5 linked regions of the Homo sapiens genome follow. The protein of the gene in region 5 interacts with the protein of the main gene of each other region in a pairwise test. Each region holds a gene or a part of one and is shown on either strand. Other genes may lie near its edges.

Evidence for each region.
Region 1: the proteins of SOCS6 (region 5) and CLNK interact in a two-hybrid assay, tested with the Homo sapiens proteins (one large-scale study listed by BioGRID and IntAct).
Region 2: the proteins of SOCS6 (region 5) and WDR89 interact in a two-hybrid assay, tested with the Homo sapiens proteins (one large-scale study listed by BioGRID and IntAct).
Region 3: the proteins of SOCS6 (region 5) and EFEMP1 interact in a two-hybrid assay, tested with the Homo sapiens proteins (one large-scale study listed by BioGRID and IntAct).
Region 4: the proteins of SOCS6 (region 5) and ERN1 interact in binary tests that used the Homo sapiens proteins (3 or more experiments, as listed by UniProt).

Annotation. Positions count from the first base shown.
Region 1 is NC_000004.12:10,489,332-10,492,783, forward strand, and holds part of CLNK (cytokine-dependent hematopoietic cell linker), read right to left. Parts: intron 3,141-3,452; coding exon of another isoform or gene 3,117-3,140; exon of another isoform or gene 2,407-3,116; intron 1,283-2,406; coding exon 1,136-1,282; 3' UTR 1-1,135. UniProt on the Homo sapiens protein: An adapter protein which plays a role in the regulation of immunoreceptor signaling, including PLC-gamma-mediated B-cell antigen receptor (BCR) signaling and FC-epsilon R1-mediated mast cell degranulation.
Region 2 is NC_000014.9:63,639,063-63,643,268, forward strand, and holds the start of WDR89 (WD repeat-containing protein 89), read right to left. Parts: upstream 2,810-4,206; 5' UTR 2,742-2,809; exon of another isoform or gene 2,237-2,741; intron 1-2,236.
Region 3 is NC_000002.12:55,878,783-55,882,297, forward strand, and holds part of EFEMP1 (EGF-containing fibulin-like extracellular matrix protein 1 precursor), read right to left. Parts: intron 2,953-3,515; coding exon 2,830-2,952; intron 1-2,829. UniProt on the Homo sapiens protein: Binds EGFR, the EGF receptor, inducing EGFR autophosphorylation and the activation of downstream signaling pathways. May play a role in cell adhesion and migration. May function as a negative regulator of chondrocyte differentiation.
Region 4 is NC_000017.11:64,043,137-64,046,651, forward strand, and holds part of ERN1 (serine/threonine-protein kinase/endoribonuclease IRE1 precursor), read right to left. Parts: intron 2,347-3,515; coding exon 2,223-2,346; intron 1,792-2,222; coding exon 1,724-1,791; intron 1,065-1,723; coding exon 852-1,064; 3' UTR 1-851. UniProt on the Homo sapiens protein: Serine/threonine-protein kinase and endoribonuclease that acts as a key sensor for the endoplasmic reticulum unfolded protein response (UPR).
Region 5 is NC_000018.10:70,287,697-70,291,851, reverse strand, and holds the start of SOCS6 (suppressor of cytokine signaling 6), read right to left. Parts: upstream 2,808-4,155; 5' UTR 2,762-2,807; exon of another isoform or gene 2,560-2,761; intron 2,185-2,559; exon of another isoform or gene 1,985-2,184; intron 1,956-1,984; exon of another isoform or gene 1,128-1,955; intron 1,112-1,127; exon of another isoform or gene 1-1,111. UniProt on the Homo sapiens protein: SOCS family proteins form part of a classical negative feedback system that regulates cytokine signal transduction.

The sequences.
Region 1 (3,452 bases), on a different chromosome or scaffold from region 5:
GAGGACAGTTTTTCTCTGTCTTTGAATGGAAGTCCATAATTGGAATTGTTAATACAATTTTTAGTTTCCCTCAGACATATGCTTGCCTGAAGGCTAGTGTAGGATATAATCTGAGCTCTGTACTATGAATGTGTTAATTCCATTTGACTTAAAGCTACTTGAAGCAGATGATGCTGGAGGCTGGTCCCATGACCGTTTCACACCCTAGTCAGAGGATTTTCAGTTTCTGTCTTCAAGGTGACATTCACAATTGCTGGTTTTCCATACCACATTTCTTCCCTATACTTGAATTTCTAGGATTACAATAAAAGAGAGCTAATATTCACCAACCCAACACCTTTTTTTTTTTTTGAGACGGAGTCTCTCTGTCCCCAGGCTGGATTGGAGTGCAGTGGCGCGATTTCGGCTCACTGCAAGCTCCGCCTCCCGGGTTCACACCATTCTCCTGCCTCAGCCTCCCGAGTAGCTGGGACTACAGGCACCCACCACCACGCCCAGCTGATTTTTTGTATTTTTAGTAGACATGGGGTTTCACCATGTTAGCCAGGATGGTCTTGATCTCCTGACCTCGTGATCTGTCCACCTCAGCCTCCCAAAGTGCTGGGATTACAGGCATGAGGCACCGCACCCAGCCCAGCATCTTTAGTGTAAGAAATCATCCACACATTGTATATATGTAAGGCCCAACAACTGACATAAAGGCAGCGCAGTGTCCTGTAAAGAGCACAGATTTGGGAATTTCCCATAGACTTGTCTTGCACTGACTGCAAACATTTAAGCAACAGCTTCTGGTGCCCTTTGCTGCTCGCCTGTATCATGAGCATAATGGCTATGTTTATAGTATTTTTTGTTGTTGTTTTTTAGAAGATACTTTTAAAACCCTAGTTTTTATTTTTATTTATTTTCCAGTGGCCAGTTACTAGAATGTTTTTATTTTTTGCATGTTATAAATATTTTCTCTGTGGTTTGAACTTTCAAAACCGTGAGTGATTTTCCACTCTCTGTTATAGAGTGTTTTTCTTTTCTCCAAAGTTAAAAAAGTTGTCCCTTGAAGGCACAGAAAATAAACTTTTGAAATCAATGAAAACAATGGAAGCGCTGAATCCAGTAAACCAAAGATAACACAAAGACCAGGCTACAGAGGCAAGAGGTGTCTGGTGAGAGGGAGTGGCTGAGTGAGGTGACACTGTTTCCTGTGGACCCCAGTTTTATCTTTCCCATCAATTAGTATAATGGGAAAATTCTTGTAGTGTTCGATGATGTCTTCTACTGAATCAAACTTCTGAAACACAGAAAAGAAAGTTAATGACTTTTAAAATATCTTTTGTGTCTGTAGGTTAAAGTATAGCCAAGGTGCTTCATTTTGCATGGGGAAGAGGTGAACCAATTTAACAATGTTTGTATGGTAAAGGTGTTTCAGGAAGTGGTTTTTGGTTTGTTTGTTTTTTTCTGAGACGTTGTTTTGCTCTGTCACCCAGGCTGGAATGCAGTGCCACAATCTCGGCTCACTGCAACCTCCGCCTCCCGTGTTCAAGTGATTCTCCTGTCTCAGCCTCCCAAGTAGCTGGGATTACAAGCATGCGCCACCACGCCCAGCTAATTTTTGTATTTTTAGTAGAGACAGGGTTTCGCCATGTTGGCCAGACTGGTCTCGAACTCCTGACCTCAGGTGATCCACCCGCCTCGGCATCCCAAAGTGCTGGGATTACAGGCATGAGCCACCACGCCTGACCGGAAGTAGTTTTTAAAAAGAATATGGCAAGCTTGAAGGATGAGTGATAAGAATGATAACAAGAGAGAAAAAAATTCTTGAGAGAACCAAAAGTGAGCCCTATGGCAGCTCTTTAAACTTCCTATACAGGGAGTTTCCCCTCTCTGGAATCAGATCACACTGGTCAAGTTCCATTCTATTGTTATCACAACCTTTCTATCCTAAGGACTCAGATGGGTTAATTACACAGCAATCAAGCCTTGGAATCTCTGTTGCCTCCCAAACCTCAACCTTAGCTCTGACCAGCAAAAATATAGAAGATGTAGGCTCGAATGTAGTAAATTGGTGGGCAATGCCTGCAGTGAGCTTGCCCTCCAGTAACGAAGTCTAAGGAATTCTAGTATACATAGAAAGAACAGGGACAACCACGGGGCTGCTTAGCTAATTTAGCTGCCCTCCTTAAGCTTCTTGTGAAATAATGAGGTAGCTGCAGATTTCAGTGTTTCTAGATACACAGATAAAATGTTATGACAATTTAACGGAAAGTAAGATTATTTCAGGTTTAGGGAAATGGGGAAGTGCTTTGTCAAGGACACAGACTTGAAATGGGCTATGTTATGGGTCATTCCAGATAAGTAGACAGGAGGGTTTAAAGACATTAAAAGCAGAGAATGTACAGGACCATGCATAAGGACAGGTATTGAGAAGACTTGAGCATATATAGTAATTTTTTTTTTTAATTTCAACAGCTTTAGAGGTATAAGTGGCTTTTGGTTACATGGATGAATTGTATAATGGTGAAGTTTGGGCTTTAGTGTACCCATCACCCAGATAATATACATTGTATGTACCCAGTAGGTGATTTTTCATCCCTTAGCCCCCTTCTCACCCTCTCCCTCTCTGAGCCTTCAATGTCCATTCTGCATACACAGTAATTCTGATCAGGTGAGTTTGGATAAGTTCCTGAAGGAGTATATTGGGAGATAATTAGGAAGAGCTTGCTCAACCTGCCTCCCATGTTTCAAGACAACTTAGATCCTCCTTAGCAAGCCTGTGAGGTGAACAGGGCAGGGGGAATGATCTTCCCTAAAGAGCGAAGGGAATTTCAGCTCAGAGAAGTGGACCGCCTTACTCAGAGTCTCCCATGGCTAGGGAGGATGAGACCAGGAATGAAGGCTCACTTTTCTGGATACTTCTTTTTATTTTTCAGCTTTGCCTATAGCTTGTGACCTCTGATGCTCCAACAAACCAGGGTAGAGATGACATAGCCTGAAGAAAGGGAGCCGTGTGGGGGCTACTCTGCCTCTGATTTGGTTTTGTCCACTCCTTCCTCTGTCCGGGGCATCCTAGGTGCAGCAATGTTGCAAGGCCTCAGGAATAGCCAATGGAGAATGAGATTGGCCAGTTAGGACCTCACAGGGATGACGTTCTGTTGGGAGCAGGCAGAAAATAATTTCCTATGCAAACAAATAATTTCATTTAGAGCTATGTGCTGTGAAAATTGTCCGTTGAGGCTTAAGAACTTCACCAGGTCGCTCAGAGGCTTCCCTCGGGGCTGTTGGGAGGGAACGTTCTTTTCTGTTAGAGGCGCACTGAATAGAAAGCAATTAAAACGCTATAAACCTGTGACTTCCAGGGTCATCTCCTCCTTCCCACCGTCATGTGGGATGGGGGGAGGGGGTGTGTGAAGAGCAAACAGACACCACGCTGGGGATAAAAACGTGGGGAAAGAAATGTAGAG
Region 2 (4,206 bases), on a different chromosome or scaffold from region 5:
GCAGAAAAGAGCCACAAGCCAAGGAAGACAGGCAGCCACTACAAGCTGAAAAAGGTAAGGAAATGGATTTTCTTCTCACAGCCTCCAGAAGGAATTGGGCCTGCAACACTTTGACTTTAGTCCAGTGAAACTGATTTCATACTTCTGACCTCCAGAACTAAAAGACAATAAATGAGGCTGAGCATGGTGGCTCATGCCAGTAATGCCAGAACTTTGGGAGGCCAAGGTGGGAGGACTGCTTGAGCCCAGGAGTTTGAGACCCACCTGGGCAACATAGCGAGACCTCATCTCTACCAAAAAAAAAAAAAAAAAAAAGGAAGAGGTGACTCTCTTGAGTACATCTGCACTCCCCTTTCTTAAGTGTGTACTTTTCACCAAAGGAAAAAAAAAAAAGAAAGAAACAAAGGCAGAAAGAATAAATGTGTGTTATTCGAAGTCACTAAATCTGTTGTAATTTGTTACAGTAGCTATATGAACAAAATACACCCTTTTGACAGTTTGGCGATAATCTGTACATAATCTGCCCTAAAATATTGAACAGAATTAACATAAAGACCATTCCAGTTCAGATTTATCAAAATTCTCTTGTATTTTCTACCAAGTAAATGAAAATATCTTAAACACATGGAAATCACTGAAAATGTAGTTCTTTAAAGCACATAGGGAAAAAGTAAAAAAGCAGTAGCATCTTCAGTCGTATTTGCAGCTCATAGTGTCAGTTGCAGAAAAAGTAGTCATGACTTTAGTACAAAAGTACAACTCAAAAACTTCACGGGTTTGGCACAGTGGCTCGTGTGTAATCCCTGCCACTTGGGAGGCTGAGGCAGGAGGATCACTTGAGCTCAGAAGTTCGAGGCTGCAGTGAGCTAAGACTGTGCCACCGCACTCCCGTCTGGAAAAACACCCTGTATTTACAAAGTGAGAGAAAAGAACCCAAAAAGTAGTTACATGGGCTTGATCTTACTTTTGCTTTACAATAGCTACAACAATCTAAGGTAAGAATACAAACCAGGTAAGTAACATAGCTGCATTCACAGGAAAGTATTCCTGAATACTGAACAAGGAGATAAGCAGTCCATAGACGTTTCAGAGGATTTCTCACTTAAATGGTACTTGACTGCAAGTTACCACTGTTTTACTCGGCCATAGGTTGCAGTGCAGTCCAGGCTCCACAAGAAAGAATTTGAAAAGCAGAAACAGTCACGTGGCTTTCATCGGTAACATATTTTGTATCTATTAAATTATTTAATCCTCAGAACTCTAAGTAGTCAAGTTTGGTATTTATTTCAATTATACAGGTGAAAAAGCTGATGCTGACTTGTCCAGTCAAAGGTCAGTAACTGGTGCCTACTGCGATGTCTTTCCTCTAGATCATTTTACCTTGGTAACAATCGATTAATTCACTTCTAGGTGTGTTTTATTGACTTTTTTTTTTCTCTTTTTTGAGACGTTGTCTCACTCTGTCGCCCAGGCTGGAGTACAGTAGCACGATCTTGGCTCACTGCAACCTCTGCCTCCCGGGTTCAAGCGATTCTCCTGCCTCAGCCTCCCGAGTAGCTGGGACTACAGGCGCCCGCCACATTTTTGCATTCGTAGTAGAGACGGGGGTTTCACCATGTTGACCAGGCTGGTCTCGAACTCCTGACCTCGTGATCCGCCCGCCTCGGCCTCCCAAAGTGCTGGGATTACTGGCGTGAGCCACCGCGCCCAGGCTTTTATTGACTTTAAATAATTTCAAATTAATAAAGAAAACGGCCGGGCACGGTGGCTCACGCCTGTAATCCCAGCACTTTGGGAGGCAGAGGCGAGTGGATCACCTGAAGTCAGGAGTTCGAGACCGGCCTGACCAGTATGGTGAAATCCCGTCTCTACTAAAAATACAAAAATTAGCCGGGCGTGGTGCCAGGCGCCTATAATCCCGGCTACTCGGGAGGCTGAGGCTGGAGAATCGCTTGAACCCGGGGGGCGGAGGTTGCAGTAAGCCGAGATCGCCCCACTGCACTCCAGCCTGCGCGACAGCCTGAGACTCCATCTCAAAAAAAAAAAAAAAAAAGAAAAAGAAAAAGAAAAACAAAAAAGAAAACAGGAGCAACATTTTACAAATTATACCATCTTTTAATTTTACATCCATGGAAGCTGAATGCCACAATTTGTCAGAGACAAGCTAAAGAAAACACAAGAATGAGTAATGTCTAACACTGCTTCGCGTGAAAATGAGAACACTCACAGTACCTACCTCTTTAGATAGCCATGTGGTTTAAATGATATAATAGACCAGTTGCTGGTATCATACCACATCCCATACTACGGGTCGTCTCTTCCCAAGTGAAAATCTGCTTTCTGGCCTACAAAAGGATTATACTAAACCCTTTTAGTGGTGGGGAGAGTATCCGTGGAGAGGAAAGAGCAGGAGGAAACAGGTCTTTCCCTGAAAATGAGCAAGGGCGTTTGGCTTTTATTGAAAAACGCCCCAGAGGAAGTACTGGGAACTGCACCGGCAACAGCAGCCTGACCCGCAGAAGTTTCTTTGGCCAGGGCCAGCACAGGTTTGACCTGGTGGCTCCGACGGCGGAGCGAGACTGCCAACACGTGCACACTCCGTCCAGACCTCCCACTTCCCTCCGCGCTCCCGCGATAGCTGTCCAGCAACTCTAGCTTTCTAGACTCAACCACGGCGTCGCCGCTCGTCGAGAGGGCTGCCCATCCCGGGGACCCGCCCAGCCTGGCCCAGCAAAATGTACCTTAGTAGCCTCAACCTGTACCGGAGAAAACGCAGGCTGCGCGGCGGCTTAGAGCGGTCAAGTGGAACCCCGCCTCGACCTCTCTGATTGGGTAATGCGCACAAGAAAATCAAGAGGATTGGTCGGCTGCAGAGAGGCGGCCCGTAACGCGACGCGAAAGAAGTGGGGCATAGCGGCCCGGGGAATTCTTGCTAGCTTCCGATTGGACGAAAGCAGAACGCCTGCCCCTTCGTAGACCCAGCGTACGTACAACGCTCACACCACCACGCCGTACGCTGCGTTAGCGGAAGTTTAATGGCCCCATTGGTGGGATGCGTGGCCAATAAAGGGCAAGAATAAGGCGGATTCCGCCTTCCTCGTGGCTGACTGGATGCATCCGCTGGTACTGATTTACGTGAGTTTCAGCATTTAGACGTTCCGAGTTTCCACCGAGCCAGAGTTGGGTAGAGAGTTATTAAGATGACTAGGAGACTAATGCGGGGAGAAATAATTTAGTAGTTAGACTCAGGCCCTGAAACTACCACTCGTGTTCAGAAAGTCTACGTAATACCTTATTGTTTTCACGCGAAGAAACCAGCCCTTCAGGCCGGGCTGAATGTGGTTTAGGGATTCTCTGGCTGTCATTGGGTGAAAAAGCGATCAGTTTGAAGGTAGCTCCGCCTGGGCTCTAGGGAACTCTGGGATTTGTAGTCCGGAACTTTCGAGTCCTGTAGCTTTAAATGTGGTTGTTGCTACTGAGTTCTTTCATGTTGTTAATAACACCCATTGACATTTATTGTGGTTTGTTGGACTTTTTATCCTTTCGTTTATCAGCAGCATTAAAGACAACATTTAAGAAATGTGTAAACACTGCATGTATGTTCGTAAACAATAAATGTTAGTGTTTCCAACAATTTACTGCTGTGCCTAGCTGTATACTATATGTTCATGCTTACTGTACTAAGTAGATACTAAAATTATTTGTTTCTAAAACTTTTGCTGTTACAACAAAACAGTCTGATTTTCATATTAGTGTCCATTTACGATTATTTGAACCCTACATTTAGCAATTATGTGTACTGTGATGGCATAGGTAGCAGCTGCTTACATGAATCAAGTGTTGTTATGACATGAAGCAGAACTGGCTGCTATCTTCACAGGAAAATAGGGCTATGCTTAAAATGTCAAGCAAGACCACCATCAGGAGGAATACACATTGTATATTATTAAAGACTGTATTATAGTGTCTATTTTCAGCCTTTATTAAAACAGTTTTAGGACAGGCTTTTCCTGAGTCTATAGAATCCTGAACTCTTCTGTGAGCTAATTTAGCGGTATTTCATTTTTGTGTCTAGCAAAAGTAAAACCATTAATAAATACCAAAAACTTGCTGAGTAGACTTTTCGCTTTCGAAAAATTTTAATATTTTTTTCCTATTTTACATGTAATACAAACTTTCGACTGTAGAAGAAAAAAACATGATTTC
Region 3 (3,515 bases), on a different chromosome or scaffold from region 5:
CTAGCTTGGTCTTAACTTCTCGAGCTTGCATTTCCTCTTCTGTGAGTAGAATTATTGGGAGGGTTACAAGACATAATGTAGGCAAAGTTACTGGCACAAAGCAAGTAAACATAAATGGGAGCTAATAAGCTGCAAGATATATTTGATTTAACTTGAATACTGAAATAAATAGTAAGAAGATATTCACATGGCTTTTCCCCTTACTTTGGTTCAGGTGTCCATTCAAATGTCACCTCCTCAGGGTGGCCACCTTTCCCACCAATATCAAATAGGTTCTTCTGCCCTATCTATTCCCTTACCTTGCTTTAGACTTCTTTGTAGTCCTTAACAGTACTCGACATTGTGTTATGTGTTTATTTGCTTCTTGTGTGTTCCCTCACTATAGTGCATGACATTCTCCCCTTGAGGTGGAGGTAGAGGGTTTTTTGTCTGTTCATTGTTAGATCTGGAATAGGGCCTGGCATAGTAGTAGGTGTTCAATAAACATTATTCGAATAAATCGAAACTTCACACTAATTAAGAGCAATTTTAGCATAGTGCTTCCTAGTCCTCAGTACTATCATCAGGTGCTAGTATTGATAGCTAATTTGTATGAATGGTATTATACTTTCTAATAGCTCCACGAGGGCTATGAATTTGTAAAATTTGTTTACTATTATCCCAGTTCCTAGAACAATGCTTGTTACACAGTAAGCCCTCAATAACTATTTGGTGAATATGTGACGCATGTCTTCTTAACTAATAAACATTCATTGAACCATTCTTATTTGCTGGTACTGTGTTTGGCACCCCAAGTTTATAATGATAATCAGTATACATGTGTTCTGCCTTGTCTGGTATGAAAGACAGGCATGAAACAAATTATTCCATGGAATGAGAAGATCAACAATAGAAAGGAGTGTATGGGACACAGGGAGCACCATGCTACTTGAAGTGTGGCCTGCTGACTGCTGCTGGTTCATGGGCTATTTGGACCAGTCTGCAATGAATAAATACAGAAACTGAGAGTACATGTTTAGAAATAGCAATTTGACATTAGTGCAACATTATTTTTATTGTGCTTTACAGAAGTATTGGTCTGCCGTAGATTGGAAATTTACAAAAAAGTATCCTTCATCATAATTTGAGAAGTACTGGCACAGGGGAGGAGCAACTAATTATATTTGGGTAAATCATAGCAGGCTTCCCAGAGGAAGTGATCCTAAGCTAGGATTTGACAGTGAAATAAGAATTTGCCAGGAGGGAATGTTTTTGTTGTGTAAAGAGCTTGTATAGAGGCACCAAAGTGTAAGTAACACTGTGTGACGTGTGTGGGGAACTGGTGGAATAAAGCTGGGGTGTAATATTTTGTGGTGGGGGAGAGGTGTTTATGCAACAGAACTGGACAATGATCAGATTGAGCAAGACCTTTCATGCTCTGTCGAGGAATGTAGACTTGATTCTCTCAGTGAGGGAAGCAGGAGGGGAAGACACATGATTAGATCTGAGTTTAGGAATATTTCCTCCTACCACATTAAAAGGGCTGTGACCGTATGTTCCATTATCTTTGATTCACCCCACACTAAGTTGGATTAGTTCTTTTTTCTGTACTTTTTATGCCCTCAAATATTTATTTTCCTGTCTAATACAATGGCCAAACTTTGTTATCTCTGGAGTTTTCTACACACTCTTCTTTTAAATCACAGCTTCATTTATAGCAAACCCTGGGCCTTCCTCAGAGGCTGGGCACTAACCCCAGCATCTAGGCACAGCCCTATGGCAGACAGAACTGGGCTGGGGCCCACATGGAACTCAGTGTTGACATGTGAACATCAACAGCTCACATTCTCAGGCGAAAACTGACGCTGGTTGTCTGTCCCCACATCCTCACCCTCTGTTCCTAAGAGGAAATAAGGCTTTTTCACTGATCTGTGGTAAGAAGGGGTATGTAAATAAATGGACAGTCAGAGTTTCATGCCTAGTGCTGGGCCTCATGATTGAGCCCAGAGTACTGTATTTTACTTCACTATCTGCCAGTTGGCTTCCTCATACTTTGATCTTCCATTCACTCAAAACACACGCATAGAGCCTCCATCACATGGTGGGCACACTTCAGGGACTGGGGAGACCACAGTGACACAAGATGACCTGGTCTTGCTGTCAGGGAGCTCACGCTCTTAGGCCCTCCAGCAGAGGCACGTGCTGAACTTGGCTTTGTACTCATGGTACCCTACAAAGGCTTGCAGTATAAAGAGCCTTTAATACCCATCTGTTGACTCAGAATACAACGATAGCAAACAGCTTTACTGCACAGGGACAGGCACTATTCTAAGCATTCCCTACATGAGCTCTGGAGGTAGGGCCTAGTATCATCTCCACAGTACAAGTGAACATAGTGAGACACAGGATTTAAGTAACTTGCTCAAGGTCTCAAAGCGAGCTGGGGTTGGTGCTTGGAATGCAACTCCACCATTTGCTCTATGTGCTGTGCTATGCTATGCTCTGCAGCAGTGAATGGTGAATGAAGCCCACAGTACCAGTGTGTTAGCGCGATGGCCCCCAAAACAGCAAATTTAAATTTTTTTGTGGTTGTTTTTATTGTCCCATTCATACCCCAAATTTCTGCTCTTGCTTCGTCTAACATTTAACCAACACTTTGTTATCCAGAATAGCTCAACCTTTAAGGTTGTTTCTTGTTATTGTGGAAAATGGATTGGTAGTCTATAAAAAAATAAGGAATTATTGGCTACCACTCTCCAAAGAAACATGAATGCTTTGATTGGAATGCTTGAGGTTGAAACAGTTAAGGTACTCAAGACAGGACCGTGCTCACTGCACTGTGGTACTTACCTACGCACTGCTCCCCTCGCTTCTGATATCCAGGAGGGCACTGACATGCAAAGGATCCCCGTAAATTGATGCACACTTGGTCTGCTCTACAGTTGTGCGTCCCTGCAGTGCACTCGTCTATGTCTGTCAGAGACATGCAACACAGAAAGAATTGTCAGTTGTGAAGATGTTGATATTTCCTCCATTTTGCCACTTCTTAAGCTAAATTTTTACTTTATTCTTAAAAGTTTATAATGTTCTTGCATTGGAAATGTTTAAAATTATAAATTATTTCAAGTGTTCAGAAAATAATTTTGCAAATACCAGTGAGTACTGCTCAGATTTAACAAATGCTAACATTTTGTCATGTTGGTCTTGGCTCATTTTGTTTTGTTAAGAAACATTTCAGATACAGCTAAAGCCTCACACCATCCTCATCCCTTGACCCATCAGCTACCACTGTCTCGGTAGGAATGAATCCTTCCCTGAGATGTTTTTGTACTTTTGTTAGACAGGGATGCATCCATTAGAACATATGGTATTGTTTTGTATGTTAAAAATTTTAATAGATTGTATGATACTTGCTTTTCCATCCAATATATTGTATTTGAGATAATTTCCATTGACAAATTTCTAAAAATCTAACCAATAACTGGGTGTAATCAACCTTTAATATTATACGTTCCCTGTAGCTGTTTGTTTTTGCA
Region 4 (3,515 bases), on a different chromosome or scaffold from region 5:
GGTCCTGAAGGCTGGCCCCTGTCTGGGTCTTCGCTGCTCTCCTTGAAGGCCAGGGAACTCTTTACCTCTTGCCCCAGGCGCTCCTGAGCACCACCCCGAGATGGCCCGGGACACACCCACCAAAGGCCACTGTTCTGGCCACTGGCACTGGGCCACGGCTGCCTCCAGAACAGAGCAGCCTCTTCATTTCTGAGACCTGCAGACACAACCCCACCTGCCAGCATGCATAGCTGACCAGTCCCTAATGCCACACCTCATGCTCATGGCTCCTGCTGCCTCTGCAGAAACACTAGTTAACAGTGACCTGGGCTACTCTGGGCACATCTGTGATCAATGAGAAATCTCACACTGCAGGACGACACCCTCTGAACTCCGTCCTCCCCCTCCTCAGCATCCCCCACCTCTCAATTCCGGTCTCCAGTGAAGGCTGTACTTGGTGCATCTCAGCCTAGCTGTCCCAGCACGCAAGCAAAATGTACGATTCCCTCCTCTCCCTTCCTGAAAGGCCTGTAGACTGACATTAAGCAGGAATTTAAAAAGTCTGAAGCAAGTTTATCCAGTAGATGGCTGGGGGTGCTACTCGCGCTGTCTCTGAGGCCCTCCTTTGCAGACATCATGACCGTAAGGCTTTTGGGGCCAGCATCTTCCCAGTTCCCTGTAGGTCACGAGGGGCCACTTCTCCCACTTCCTGGGGTCAGCACTGTCCTCTGTGGGCTGCAGAGCAGGCAGCTCAAGGCACTTGGTTTGGGAAGCCTGGTCTCCCTGCAAAGCCGGGAGGCATCAAGCTCTAATTGTGGTGACCAGGCCCTCAGTCACAGCTGGGGCCACCAGAACAGAGGGGCCGCCCTCGCTCAGAGGGCGTCTGGAGTCACTGGGGGCTGGGGCTCTGGGGGCTCGTGGAAGTAGTAGGGCTGGAAGAGTCTCTCGTGGCTGCACAGCTCCATGGCCCGGTAGGTGTGTGCGAGGAGGTGGGGGAAGCGAGATGTGAAGTAGCACACGAAGTCGTCGGGGAGGGACCCCAGCGTCTCCCGCACCTCTGCAGGCAGCTCCCGGTAGTGGTGCTTCTGCAAAGAGTTAGAAAGCTCGGGAGATTAGAAAGGGGTTAGAAAGCTCGGGAAATGTTGGCAAAACACCCTTTCATCATGCAAGGAAGAGACAGAATGTGAGTGTTGGTTTTTGGTAAAGAAAAAGAAAAAAGGCTTATGTATCCAAGAATCCAGCCCCGTCATCTCGCCTGCTACCCTCACTCAGGAGGAGGCCTTGAAGTGAGCAAGGCCCAGCCAGTCCAGGGGGTGCTCAGGCCTTCTGTGACAGTCAGGACCTGGAGACACTCCTGGCCACCTCAGGAGGAGTAAAGTCGCCTGAGATTGGAGTGTCCGTCCCAGTGGGGTCCCCGCATTTGAGGTATGTTTATACATGTTTACACACAGTGGCTGCATCAGACAGGGAGAGGGCCCCACAAAAGTCAGCGACCAGAGACCATGAGGGACATGGGCCGCAGAGCACTGCTTCCCGGAGCTTCACCTGCACCTACGTCCCTGAAGGGAAAATCAGCGTAAGAGAGGCAACAGCCTGCAGTTTGCCAAGTCCAGCTGAAGCCGCCTAGCTCCTGAGAGATGAGAATGCCAGTACAGATAAAAGATTTATAAAGAATGGATGAAAGGAGGAAGGTGTCCATGTCATGGCCACTGGGTCTCCTCCCCAGCATTTACAAACTGCTTACCTTATTTCTCATGGCTCGGAGGAGATCTCTGACAGAACCACCTTTATAGGTCCTGAATTTACGCAGGTCTAGAAAAACATTGAGGGAAGCAATGGGTAATCAAATTTAAAACTAATACATTTTAAAAGAAAACAATTCATGGGGTCCTGGGATTAGGGAGTTGGACTGAAAGGTGAGGTCACTCCACACCTAGGCATGGGAGCAGATCCTCCCATCCAACCCAAGGGTGGTATCCCCCTGAACCCCACCTGGTGATCACACCCAGGTCAGAAATGACCACCTAGAGCACGACACCATCACTCACCTGTCACTCTAGGGAACAAAAATGAAACACACATCAGTGTAACCAAACCACAGAGGACACACCCAAGAAAGTCTCAAACCTGACAGGTGGGATGTGGGGCCTGAACAGCCTGGAGCGGCCATTTCCACGTTTACTTTTTGGAAAGGCGGCAGCGACTTTTGCAACCTGCCCTCTCACACGCTGCAGCATGATCACCTGTCTGGAGGGGGACAGTGATGTTCTCCCGCCAGTCCATCTTCACCACGGCTCTCCCGCCTCTCTCTAACTGCTTCACGATCGGGCCATCCAGGGATTCCTTTTCTATTCTGTCGCTCACGTCCTGTGAGAGAAACAAGGGCAGCAGATGATGGTCAGTGCTGGAGATGCTGAGAGCTGTGCGACTGGGACTCAGTAACAGATCATCACTGACACATAAGCCTGCCCCAGAGCTGGGCAGCAGGCACCCTGCCCCCTCCCTCCCTCATCCATGACTTTCCCTGTGAGCTGCTCTGTTCCTCACGAAGCACAGGCCCACAGAGAGCTTCTCCCATGTCAGAGAGGTGTCACAGAGTACACCTGCATATAGACCACGAACGCATACCCTGAATTTCACATGTGCACACACACGCCATGTGTACGGAGCCGCAAGTGCAATCTATATCCAATGAACCAAAACCAAAAAGAAAAGGAAAGCTCAGATTTGATGTGCATCCCGTGCTTTGTCTACTCACTGAAACAGGGTATGCTCAAGCCCATAACTGGTGGAGGGTCGCCACTCTTCCCTCCACCAGTAGAAAAGACCTGTGAAGCTGGGCCTTCTTCTCAAAGAGGAAACTTGGTGGCAAGAGTATGGGCTCCAGAGGCTCCTGTTGGGATTCAAACCTTGCTCTGCATTTGACTTTGGTAATAAGGAGAGGGTCAGGAAGCACCCAAGTATGGCCTCTTGAAGTCCCACCAGTAAGACAGGTCGACAGCTGAGGACACAGGGAGTGGTGAGCCCTGTCTACATCAATGTTAAGTAGCCTTAGGAGACCCTTTTCTCAGAGCAGCCTTTTCTATGATGAAGATGAAGCCAGACTGGCTGAACTCCTAATTTACAATTGTCAGAGAGAAGCTGTGGAGAGGTTAGATTGTCAACTTGGGTACACTGGGAACACACGTGTCTGAGCTGCAAAGCTGTTACGGCTAAATGACCTGAGTGGAAGCCAGGTGTGTTCGAGAGACATATGACCTGGAGATACTAAGCATTTAAATCCTGTCCCTTGGTGGGTGAAGGTCCCTTTGTGTGGGTTTTATTCCTGTTCTATATTTTGCGATCAAAATGACCTGGTTAGTTTTCACAAGTCCCTGGAAGACATATGGACTTGAGAATTTTCACATTATGTCCATGGACACAGTGACCAATCCATATGCTACAACATGGAAGACAGCATTAAACTCTTCCCAACCCGATCCATCTGAATGGTTGGGCCAGGCAGCGTCCTCCCTAGGAGGCAGGGACACAGTAGT
Region 5 (4,155 bases):
TTTTATGACATATACTAGTATTTGGAATTTCTCCCTTGTAAAATGAATAATTTTACAAAAGTACTTCGGCACCACAGATGTAAATATAATTTCCAGAATTGGAAGAGGTCACGAGTGCATATTTTTAAGAGAATAACAATAATTGAGTCCCAATAAGCCCATGATAAATTGAAAATATCTTAAAGTCAAAACTCACAGTGGGTTTATCTGGATGTAAGTCGAAGTGCATACTAAATGTGTATCGTTTTTGCTCCATCAAAAAGTCAAAAAGTCCAAAATTGGGGACCATCTATATGTTTGGACTTTTAAATAAGATCACACCTCTATGAGCAAAATAAAAGATATGATCAATAACCCAAAAGTTTCCTGAAAACTGGCCATAATGGAGAAAACTAGCAAGATTTTTCTCTAAGGAGTGTAGTTACACAAGAAGGCTTAAGAGGACACTTGCAGGCTGGGTGTGGTGGTTCGTGCCTGTAATCCCAGGGCTTTGGGAGGCTGAGGTGAGAGGATCTTGAGGCCTAGAGTTTGAGACCAGCCTCGGCAACACAGCAAGACCCCACCTCTCCAAAAAACAATCAGCCAGGTGTGGTGGCACATGTCTGTGGTCCAAGCTACTCAGGAGGCTGAGGGAGGTGGATCACTTGAGCCCAGGAGTTCAAGGCTGCAGTGAGCCATGATTGCACCACTGCACTCCACCCTGGGTGACAGAGGAAAAACAAAAAAGAAGATACTTGCTTTCTGTTTCCTAAAAAAAGGGGGGCCATTAAAAGAACACCTTTTCCAGTTCTAATGCAAGAATGAAGAAAAACACTGGAAGGCAAAATGACTAGAAACCCAGTCAGTACAGCACCATTTTCCACCCTACGCCCAGTCAATGGCTCTCAAATTCCTTCCCTGCCACTCCCTGCGGGGTGGGGGGCCCACCAAGAGAGGGGGTCATGGGATGACCCGAGGGTGTGCGCTTGGGTGGGAGGCCCTGCTGAAGAGAAAGGGGCAAGACTACCAATTTAGAGGGTAATTTAGAAGATAACGATAAAGGTAAGAGAGAAACAGTGTTTCAAAAGAGATGCTGAATGGAGTTCTAAAAAAGTATAGATTCGGGTGAATACCTGGCTGACCCTTACCCAGGCACAAGCGGAAAGCCCTGGCCAAACTCCAGATAGAAGTTCTTCTAGGAATCCTTATCAAATCCACTGTCCACGAACCAGGTTCCTCCAAGGCACCAAGGCAGGCTTAGGGAGGGTGTTTGAACCAAAGGGTTAAGGCCACATATTTAATTTAGAGCTGAATGGATCCTAGACCTTACCATATCCACGCGTGCACAAAACCCACTAGGAGGAGAAATTAGAAAGCCCACGGAAAAGTATTACAGACTTTTTTTCCGGTTTTTGTGAAACCTGGTGAGCAATGCCATTCGTGTTTTTAAGTAAGGCTGTCCACAGCATTAAATATTACAATTAAGATTCGTTCATTCAAGTAAGCTAAATGGATTTAATGTTGTGGTAGTTGGTTAAAAACAAGTCAAGATAAATTGCTACCTTCAGTGGTTGAGAAGATGTCAGATATTTTATCTTGAAGTAGAACGTTTACTTTTGTTTGATTCCAAATGTATCTTTATCCCAAGGAACACAGTAAATTTAAAATGTCTCTGGGAGACGTTCAGTGTGTAATTCACGTTATTTCTGTCATTACTGTGTTCTCTGTCCTCATGCACAGTGCATGCTGCCTTATCCGGGCAGACGTTGCAGAAACATTTGTTGAAATGAATTCAACATTATTTATTTTGCTACCGGAAGACTGAGTCCCGCCACATATTCCCACCTGGCCCTTCATTCCAAACAGTGGGGATGGGAACCCCAATTTCACATTCCAACTGAACGTTAAGTTGGCACACACACTACTGCACATATCCCAAGTTTTGTGCCAGGATCTGCCCCTGAGAAACGTCCATAATTCTGCTCCGTGAGCCACAAGGGTGTACCTGAAGTTGCCAACTCCCGAAGCAAACTGAAAATTCAGGCCCGTGTCGGTCCCAGGAGCGGTTTAAATTCCACAATCGTCCGGTCCCTACACCCGGGTGAGTGCGCAGCCGGCCGGCGGCACCTTCAGCCGCAGAGCAGCCCCGGCCTGCACCTCCACCAGCGCCGGCGCGACCTCGCGGTGGGGCGGGGGCGTCCCCGAGTCCCAGCGCCGCGCCCCAGGCCCGCCCTCGCGCCTGCGGCCTCGCCGCGCCCCGACCCCGAGCCCGAGCCCGAGCCCGCGGAGGTCCGAGGAGGGACCCGGCCGGGGCGCAGAGCCGCGCAGGCCCCGCGCCGCTGCCCAGGCCTCGCGGAGCCCCGGCCTCTCCCCGGCGAGCTGCGGGCAACAAAGGCGGCGGCCCAGGCCGGCGCGCCGCGGCCGAAGAGGCCGAGGGGTCGAGAAGAGCCGTCCGCGGCCGCGCAGGCCTCGGCCCTTCAGGGGCCGCCGCGCCCCGGCCCCGGCTTCCCGGTTTCCGCGTCCCCGCTCCCGGGACTGGCCCCGGCCCCCGTTCCCCGGCCCTGGCCCCCGCCCGCGCACCCGCCGAGACGGCGCAGGGCCTCGCGCTGACCCAGACCCGTCGCTGCAGCCCCGCGCCCGGCGGCCTCCCTGGCCCGGCCCGCGCCGGATCCGCCCCCTGCACTCCGAGGCGAAAACCAGCCGTGTCCCGGACCGCGGGCGACCCGGAGGCGGACGGCGAAGCCCTGCCCCTGCCTCCCGCCCGAGCTCCCCGGACGCTTACCCGGAGGCGGCCCGGCTCCGCTTCCTCGCCCAGCGCCGGCGCGACTGCCGCGCTCGCCTTCTCCTCTCGGCAACTCCTCCTCCCGCCTCCTTCCTCCTCCTCCTCCAGGAGGGGCGCGCGGCCGCGGCGCCTCGGCCCGAGCGGGGAGCGGGTGCGGAGGAGCCGAGCGGGCCGCCCCCCGTCCACTACTCGGGCCCGCGGCGCAGGCGGGGCGTCGGGGCGCGCGGGGCTGAGGCCGGGGGCCGCGCGGGGCGGGGCGGGGGCCGGGCACTAAGTGGGGGTTCCGAGGGGAGGGGCGCCGGGCCGGGGTCGTGGGGCGGACGGAGCGCGGAGCCCTGATCCCTTCCCCCACCCCCGCGCCCCTCCGCTGGTGCCTGCAGGAGGCCGCTCCTCCGGCCCCCAGAGTCCCTGTCCTGGTTTTTCCTTTGGTGCTTTCCCTCTGGCGGGGGTGGCCCCGGCTAACGCGGAAAGGAAAGTCTCCTCGTTCCCCGGCCCCGCGGATTTGGCGGCTGCGGTCCCTGTCCCCCTGTGGCGGGCGGTCGGACCCCCGCACTGCCCAGGTCCGCTGGGCTCGCGCGGGGACCCCGGCCTCGTCCCCGCAGGGAGGGGACCCCAGGACAGACGCGCGCGCACGCTGTGCAGAGCCACAAGTGGGGAAACCCTCCCCACACCTCGACTAAATTGTGAAAAATGCTTTTTAAAAAACCAAACATTCCTTGTTTCAAGCCATCCACTTTTCCATTTAGTCGTTTTCAGGGAGGTTTTGTACAAGGAATAGTTGTTTGTGCCGCCGAATTCCAAGGTAGTGTGGTATACAAGTTGCATGTTGGGATCTTGACTAATTTCTTTGGAAACTGGCTGAACATACTACTAATGTATAGCAGTACCACAAAAACTTGATTTTTGTGCATAAGAATCAATAGGAAAATTTGTATTTCTCTTACGATGAAAAGTGGTTAAAAAAATGAATATCATTAGTATTTCAGTAAAGCTTGGGGGGAGATAAATATTAAAATCTAATGAGAATTATTGTGGACTTTAAAAGTTGTGTTTCTTGAATAGTATGGACCTTTTTAAAAGAAAACCGAAAGGACAGAGAAAAAAGGGCTAGAAAAAAAGTCTAAAAAGCTGTTCAGGTATGAGTTGGTACCCGAATTATATCTCAATAAAGTTGTTAGTTACAAAAAAGTTCAAGTCCAGTAATCTTAATTCCTATGTCCAATATACAATCTGGATTTCCCCAAGAAATCTAGATTCATAACAGAAAAGTTGGATCTTTAGGTGATGCAAAGTTGATGTCATGTATCATACACTATCATTGTCATCTTCAGTTTTTACTTGAATTTATTAATAAAATACTACCATTATTGTTACCGTGATTGAAATGCAACACA